Regions from separate parts of the Homo sapiens genome. Here region 2 is linked to region 1. The links come from fine-mapping of genetic effects on gene expression. A gene starts in region 1. The other region holds a variant in brackets. All regions are shown on one strand. Distances are between the middles of the regions.

Evidence for each region. PIP is the estimated chance that this variant, and not a neighbour inherited with it, causes the effect.
Region 2: its variant is fine-mapped to the expression of SYCP3 in CD4 T cells (BLUEPRINT, PIP 0.95).

The regions. Positions count from the first base shown.
Region 1 is chr12:101,737,225-101,741,624 of GRCh38, reverse strand. It overlaps SYCP3 (synaptonemal complex protein 3), which reads left to right and starts at 2,163. Exons shown (of 9, transcript NM_001177949.2): 1 at 2,163-2,274; 2 at 3,673-3,822; 3 at 4,327-4,393. The coding sequence starts at 3,690.
Region 2 is chr12:101,816,159-101,820,558 of GRCh38, reverse strand. The region is part of intron 1 of GNPTAB (N-acetylglucosamine-1-phosphate transferase subunits alpha and beta); the gene reads left to right. Among named protein-coding and RNA genes, the nearest start is that of GNPTAB, 13 kb to the left of the region's middle. The variant AG/G (reference allele first, on the strand shown) is at 2,182.

The DNA.
Region 1 (4,400 bases):
CTGGAGATAATCTTGGGAAATTTTTATTACGAATAAAGAAGAAAAATGACAGATGCTCTTCTGTAAGGGTCACTGTAGGAAAAACAACTGAATATGATGATGTAGTGAATGGAACTACTTAATAAGAACAGCATCTATAAGGGTATGGAGGCATAAGAGTGCACAGCACATTTGGGAAAACGCAATGTGGCTGATGCAGTATGAGGCCAAGAATGAGGCTGGCAAGAGAGGAAAAGCAGGATTCCAATTGGGACCAATTGTCAATCATAAAAGCCACCATTTATGGCACATTTATTATGTGGCAGGTACTGTACTAACGCTTTACAAACTTTTTTGAATCCTTTCAGTAATGAAAAATTTACAAGGTTCACTGTATCCTGTATCAACAGGTTTGATGTAGTGAATGGAATTACAGGAACAAGTCTGGGAGTCGTCATCCGTCATTCCTTACCCAATACACTGGTGTATTTAAACGAGCCAGTGGAATGCTGAGCATCATAAGGAAGAGGATTCAAAGCAAAACAGTAAACAGGAGGGTTCCTTTGAATCTCTTACTTGAACTAGGCAGTTGAAAAGTGATTGGCGTCAATAAGATCCTGAAGCCTTTGCCAAATATTAAAGAAGTAAAATATAGGCCAGGCAAGTTGGCTCATGCCTGTAATCCCAGCACTTTGGAAGGCCGAGGTGAGAGGATCATTTGAGCCTAGGAGTTTGAGAACAGCCTGGGCAACATAGTGAGACCCCATCTCGGCAAACTTTTTTTTTTTTTTTTTCTTAATTAGCCAGGCATGGTGGCACGTGCATGAGTCCCAGCTACGCAGGAGGCAGAGACAGGGGGATCATTTGGGCCCAGGAAATCAAGGCTGCAGTGAGCCGTGATCATGCCATGCCACTGCACTTCAGCCTTGGCAAGAGAGCAAAACCCTGTCTCAAAAAAAAAAAAAAAAAAAAAGTAAAATGTATGATTTCAAATAGAAAAAGGATTGCAGAGCTGTGAGCAAACTAAGGCAGGTACAAAGGTTGAAATATATTTTAAAATTATTTGGGGGAAAATACATATAAGCACAGAAAAAAGGATGAAAGGCAATAATACCCCCAATTTTAAACTGTATATTATTTCTGGGTAGTGGGATTATAGGTGAGTTTCATTTCCTTCATAAATTGTATCTTCAAAAATTGTTTTGCAATTGATAGGTGATTTCCAGTTACACCAAATAATTGTTTTACAATTATACTCCCACCCACTGAATGGGTTCCCTTTGTTACATAGATTCATCATCACTCCGTGTAGTCATATTTTGTAGTTTTGCCATTCTAGTGGACTGTCAGAACACTACATAGACTATGGGACAATTTTTTGTAATGCCAAACGCGAACGAAACTAAGCCGTGTTGTTTAACGACACATTTTCATGTGGTAATAAAACTTAGAAAATAAGGAAGGGTGAATGATTTACATAAATTTAGGATAATTTTCTTATATCCCTGAATGGGGAAGGGTGGGGTCCTGGTGAGGATCGGATGGAAAGGCCTGCCTGAGGAGATTCAGTGAATGTTGGTAAAGCCCTACTTCATAAATTAGGTGGTATGTTCATCATGTTTCATAATTTACATATTATTCCGCAATTTTCTTTTTTTTTTTCTTGACATGGAGTCTCACTCTGTTGCCCAGGCTGGAGTACAATGGCATGGTCTTGCTCACTGCAACCTCTGCCTCCCGGGTTCAAGCGATTCTCCTGCCTCAGCTTCCCAAGTAGCTGGGATTACAGGCGCCCGCCACCACGTCCGGCTAATTTTTGTATTTTTAGTAGAGATGGGTTTCGCCATGTTGGACAGGCTGGTCTGGAACTCCTGACCTCAAGTGATCCGTCTGCCTCGGCCTCCCAAAGTGCTGGGATTACAGGTGTGAGCCACTGCGCCTAGCTGCAATTTTCGATTATAAACATTTAAAACTTAAAAACTGGAAGGCACCAGGCCTCAAGTGTACTCGCAACCCGCTCCGGCGGCCAAAGCACCCTGGGCCAGCTATTTGGGCGCGCAATCGCCCCATGGGGGCGGAGCCTCGCCACCCAGTTCACGCCTGCGCTCTGCGTCCAGCCAATCAGCGACGTGTCCGGATGAGGCGGGACTGGCTTTTCTCCTGTGCGAATCCCAGCTTGCCTCAGAAGCGTCGCGGAGAAGGGGCCACCTCAGGTGAAGCGCGCTTGTGGAGGAGTTGTGGAGGACGCCTGTCGACGACCAGTAACTGGTCCTCGGCCATTGCGGTGTGTTTCAGGTGTGAGCAGGGGAGGCGTCTGTCTATCGCAGGTGTCCAGGCCAGAGGCTGCCCTTGACCAGTGAGGTAAATCTTACCTCCTGGCGTCGCCTGGGGCCTCTGACGAGAAAACGGAGGCCGCGAACCTGAGGACAGGGCCTTGAGCAGGATAGGGCCTAGTGGAAAGCGGGCGGGCTGGGCTGGGGCTGGGCCCCATCGCTACACCCTGGGACCACTTACAGGAGGGACGCGGCGGGGCCGGGCAGGGCCCTACCTCGCTCCGCGCGTCTCCCTCCTGCCCGCTCCACGCCGAGGGCGCCTTTCGTGGTTCCTCGATGTATTTGTTGTCGAAATCTTCTGCCTGTGTTCATTTTCCGAGACCTAAATTGCGGGACGTTTTTATTATTTGTCTTGATTATTATGAGCTTATTTCTGGCATCCTCATGTCGTGTCCCGCCAGCAACTATAATTTCCCCGCGTGACTGAGCGCCCTGCTAGAGTTGCCCAGATTTAGCCAGAATCTGGCAGAGGCGGCCCCAAAATTTGGAACTCCCAGGCCTCAGGGGCCACCTCTCCAGCACTGCGCGCTTGGAGTCGGGGTGGACACTGTCATTCTCTCTCATCGATTGATTGATTGAGACGAAGTCTCACTCTGTCGCCCAGGCTGGAGTGCAGTGGGGCCATCTCAGCTCACTGCAACCTCCGCCTCCCGGGTTGAAGCGATTCTTCTGCCTCAGCCTCCTGAGTAACTGAGATCATAGGCACCCGCCACCGCGCCCGGCTAATTTTGTATTTTTAGTAGAGACGGGGTTTCACCATGTTGGCCAGGCTGGTCTCAAACTCCTGACCTCAGGTGATCCACCCACCTCGGCCTCCCAAAGTGATGGGATTACAGGCATGAGCCACAGCGCCCGGCCATTTCTGTTGTTGTTTTTTTTTTTTGAGACGAAGTTTCACTCTTGTCACCCAGGCTGGAGTGCAGTGGCTGCGATCTTGGCTCACTGTGACCTCTGTCTCCCGGGTTCAAGCGATTCTCCTGCCTCAGCCTCCTGAGCAGCTGGGACTACAGGCACGTGCCACCACGCCCGGTTAATTTTGTTTTTTTTTTTCAGTAGAGACGGGGTTTCATCATGTTGGCCAGGCTGGTCTTGAACTCCTGACCTCAGGTGATCTGCCTGCCTCAACCTTCCAAAGTGCTGGGATTTCAGGCGTGAGCTACCGTGCTTGGCCTATTTATTTTATTATTTTTTAACAAATGTCATTATCTTCTTAACTTTTGGCCCCCCAAATAAATGAGGAAACTGTTAAAATTGTATTCAACAATCCTTGTTCGATATCTCCTTTGATATTTAAACTTTTACCAGTGTATTAAAATGATGTCTTTGCATTCAGAAGGTTAAAGAAATTTGTTTTTTAAAGTCAGGAAGCATCTAAATATGGTGTCCTCCGGAAAAAAGTATTCCAGGAAATCTGGGAAGCCGTCTGTGGAAGATCAGTTTACGAGAGCCTATGACTTTGAGACTGAAGATAAGAAAGATCTGAGTGGATCAGAGGAAGATGTTATTGAAGGTGCAGTACATCTCATGTTGGGCAGTGATGTCCTTCAGTTCATTTGTTTTGAACCCATTGAGACTATCGTACAACTTAGTTTGTAAAGCATTTTCAGGTATGGTCTTCCCTCCCCCGGTATTTGTGGTTACAGAACCTGCTGACACGGATGGCCAGCTGTACTTGTGTTTCTCATTTGATCCTTATATTGCAGTATCGGAGTTACAGAAGCTTATTCGGCAACTCTTGCTTTTGCAGTTATTTCCAAAATATCTGATATATAGTATGTGGCTTACTGTGACATTAACCCAGGGAGACTTGAAAAATTATTCCTATAAAATGGTCCTGAATCCTGATTTAATTTCACCTAACCTGCAGAGAATATTGCATTTTTATGTCTGCTTTGAAACTGTATGTTGGCAAAAAGCCTAAAAATCCCCAAATGAAGATGTTTCATTAAAATTTACCAAAATAACCTATTCAGTTTCAAAAGCTTTTTTTTTTTTTTTTTAATTGTCAATACAGGGAAGACTGCAGTCATTGAGAAACGTAGGAAGAAAAGGTCTTCTGCAGGAGTAGTTGAAGATATGGGGTAACGT
Region 2 (4,400 bases), 79 kb before region 1:
CAAACATCCTATAGTGCACAGGACAGCCCCTACAACAAAGAATCATCCAGCCCAAAATGTCGATAGTGCTGAAGTTGAGAAATCCGGAATTAGAAGGGGCAAGAATGGCTGCAGGGCAGTTAGTCTACAGGACTGGCCTGGGACTAGGTCAGTGGAAGGACATAGGAAGAGAAATGGACAGATTCAAGAGGCTTAAGAGGCAAAATCCTCCAGTCCTTATGTTCCATTATGTGCTAGGCACTCCACCAACATCTTGGGATACAAAAGTAAGCGAGATAGACAAGTTCATTTGCTCTCGCAGACCCTACTTGTAGTTCTTAAGTGAATATTTGTTGAATGAATACTTATAAGCATCAAAATTTATTTTTGTTGCTGATTGTGACTGAACTTAGGAAGAGTAGTTTAAGTGAGGTGCCTAATGTATGTAAGACATCTTGCGTAGAGGCTGGTCCTAGGCGTTCAGCTAATTAAGTGCCAACTGTCCCATCTCAGGATTGTTTTCCATGTGGCCAGAGTGCTCATGAAGAAAGGACAGGAGACCACCCTGTGAGCTTATGCCTCTTAATCTTTCCTTAAATACAGAACAGGAGAACTCACAGTGATTTCTTGACCTTGGTGTGCTGTGTTATGATTGCTATGAAATCAGAGGGAGCAAGTCCTTTATTTAATATAGCTTGTACTGTATACTAATATATGTAGGCTTCCTATAGTTCCTTCTAAAATATAACAGGTGTAACTATAATAGATTATATATATTCATGATATATCTTTTTAAAATTTCTGCTGTTCTTTAGATTGTTCTCATCTTGCGATACAGATGCAGAATCTTCAGCAGTTGATTAGTCAGCCTATGTGTGATTCGTATGCATACTAAATTACACAGGAAAAAGTGATCTTTCAGAAAGACCAGGTCAGGTCACACTCATTCAGGGAGTGAAACTCATTCTATGATCAGACTAAAAACCATATTGCCCACTTTAAGATTACTTCTCAAAATTGCTTCATTTTTTTAGGATTCTAGTTTTTCTTTTTCCTTTGATAAACCTTTTTCCCCCCCTTCATTTTCTCACTTCATTTCTGTCTCTCATTAATTCCCAATTAGATAAAGCTTCTAAAGCAAATTTTCAGAAGTTGTTCATGTGACAGGCTTATGGAGGTGTTCACTTTGGGCCAGTGTATTAGTCCATTTTCATACTGCTGTGAAGACATACGCGAGACTGGGTAGTTTATAAAGAAAAAGAGGTTTAGGCCAGACATGGTGGCTCATGCCTGTAATCCCAGCACTTTGGGAGGCCGGGGCAGGTGGATCACCTCAGGTCAGGAGTTCAAGACGAGCCTGGCGAACATGGTGAAACCCTGTCTCTACCAAAAATACAAAAATTTGCCAAGTGTGGTGGCGGGCACCTGTAATCCCAGATACTTGGGAGGCTGAGGCAGGAGAATTGCTTGAACCTGGGAGGTGGAGGTTGCAGTAAGCCAAGATCGTGTCATTGCACTCCAGCCTGGGCGACAAGAGCGAGACTCTGTCTCAAAAAAAAAAAAGGAAAAAGAGTTTTAATGTACTTGCAGTTCCACATGGCTGGGGATGCCTTACAATCATGGTGAAAGGGGAAAGAGGAGCAAAGGCACATCTTACATGGCAGCAGGCAAGAGAGCATGTGCAGAGGAACTGCCCTTTATAAAACCATCAGATCTTGTGAGACTTACTCACTATCACAGGAACAGCATGGGAAAAGCCTACTCCCATGATTCGGTTACCTCCCATCAGGTCCCTCCCATGACACATGGGGATTATGGGAGCTACAATTCAAAATGAGATTTGGGTGGGGACACAGGCAAACTATATTAGCCAGGTTGTCTACTGTTGACTAAAGACACAAAGGGCTGGGCACGGTGGCTCAGGCCTATAATCCCAACACTTTGGGAGTCTGAGGTGGGTGGATCACCTGAAGTCAGGAGTTTGAGACCAGCCTGGCAACATGGTGAAACCTCATCTCTACTAAAAATACAAAAATTAGTCGGGTGTGGTGTCAGGTGCCCGTAATCCCAGCTACTTGGGAGGCTGAGGCAGGAGAATCACTTGAATCTGGGAGATGGAGGTTGTGGTGAGCCGAGATCGTGCTACTGGACTCCAGCCTGGGCAACAGAGTAAGACTCTGTCTCCAAAAAAAAAAAAAAAAA[AG/G]ACACAAATATATTTAAGTTGCTTTCTGCTCTGGAGGAACTCATAGTCCAGGCAGGGAGGTGGACAGGCAAGTAGGCAAACTTGAAATGTGTTGTGATGAATGCAGTGCCAAGCACACTTTCTCAGATGGTGTGATACCTGAGCTTGGTCTGGAAGGAGATGGCTGAGTAAAGGAAGGGGAGTGTTTTTGTTTGTTTTGTTTCTTAAGGAAAAGATGCCATTGGTGTAAAGGTATGGATATGAGACATTATTAACTTCTAAGAACAAAAGTAGTTCTAAAGGGCTGCAGCATCTTTGGAGTGACAGGGGAATGAAGCCGAAGAGGCAGGCAGGGGCCAGTTTAGGACTTGCCTGCTGGGTGGTACTAAGGAATGTGAATTCATCCTGAAGAAAATGGGGACCATCAAAGGATTTTAAGGAAGAGAGTGATGAAATAAAATCTGTGCTTAGAACAGTTGCTCTGGAGGTAATGTGGAAGATGAATTGCAGGTGGGGGAAAACGGGCAACAGGAGACGGGGTGAAAATCCCACATCAAGTATAATGCTTCAGAATCCACAAGCTTTTTTGATATTTTTATTTTTTGAGACAGGATCTCGCTATGTTCCCCAGACTGGTCTTGAACTCCTGGGCTCAAGTGATCCTCCCACCTCAGCCTCCCCATAGCTGGGATTGTAGGCATGTGTCACCTTGGCTAGCTATTTAAAAAATTAATTACTTTAATTTTTAATTATTATGGCTATATAATAGTTATGCACATTTATGGAGTACATGTGATATTTTTATACATGCATACAATCTGTAATGATCAGGCTGGGTGCAATGGCTCACACCTGAATCCCAGCACTTTGAGAGGCTTAGGTGGGTGGGTTGCTTGAACTCAGGTGTTCAAGACCAGCCTGGGCAACATGACAAAACCCCATCTCTACAAAAAAATACAAAACTTAGCTAGGTGTGGTAGCACGTGCCTGTAGTCCCAGCTACTCTGGAGGCTGAGGTAGGAGGATCACTGGAGCCCAGGAGATTGAGGCTACATTGAGCCATGATTGTGCCACTGCTCCACCCTGGGTGACAGAGTGAGACCCTGTCTCAAAAAAAAAAAAAAAAAAAAAAGTGGAATGATAAAATCTGGGTAATGGGGATATCCATCATCTCAACCATGTATCATTTCTTTGTGTTGGGAACATTCTAGATCTTCACTTTTAGCTATTTTGAAATATACAATAAATTATTGTTAATTACAGTTGCCCTCTTGTGCTGTCGAACACCAGGACTATCTAACTATTTTTGTACCTATTAGCCAATCACTCTTCATCCCCACTGCCCCCACTACCCTTTCCATCCTCTGGCAACCACCATTCTATTCTCTACCTCCATGAGATCAGTTTTTTAGCTCCCACATATGAGTGAGAAATGTGAATGCAATTTGTTTTTCTGTGCCTGGCTTATTTTACTTCACATCATGTCCTCTGGTTCCATCCATGCGCTGCAAATTACAGGATTTTATTCTTATTTATGGCTGAATAATATCCCATTGTGTGTATAAACCATTTTCTTTATCCATTCATCCATTGATGGACACTTAGCTTGCCTCCAAATCTTGGCCATTGTGAATAGTGCTGAAATAAACATGGGAGTGTAGATAGCTCTTCATTATACGGATTTCCTTTCTTTTGGGTTTATACCCAGTAGTGGGATTGCTAGATCATATAGTCGTTCTATTTTTAGTTTTTTGAGGAATCTTCAAAGTGTTTTCCATAGTGGCTATACTAATTTACATTCCCACTAACAGAGTACAAGCATTGCCTTTTTGCCAAGTCCTTGCTAGCATTTCTTATTTTCTGTCTTTTTGATAATAGCCACTTTGACTAAGGTGAGATGTCTCACTGTGGTTTTAATTACATTTCCCTGATAACTTGTAATGTTGAGCATTTTTAAATATACCTATGGCCACTTACATGTGTCTTCTTTTGAGAAATGTCTATTCTGATATTTTGCCAATATTAAAATCAGATTATTTGGGTTTTTTTATGCCATTGAGTTGTTTGAGTTCCTTATATATTCTGATTATTAAACCCTTGTCAAATGAATAGTTTACAAATAATTTTTCTCATTCTGTAGGTAGTCTCTTCATTTTGTTGATTGTTTCCTTTGCTGTGCAGAAGCTTTTTAGATTGATGTAATCCCATTTGTCCATTTATCTTTGGCTGTGTATTCTCT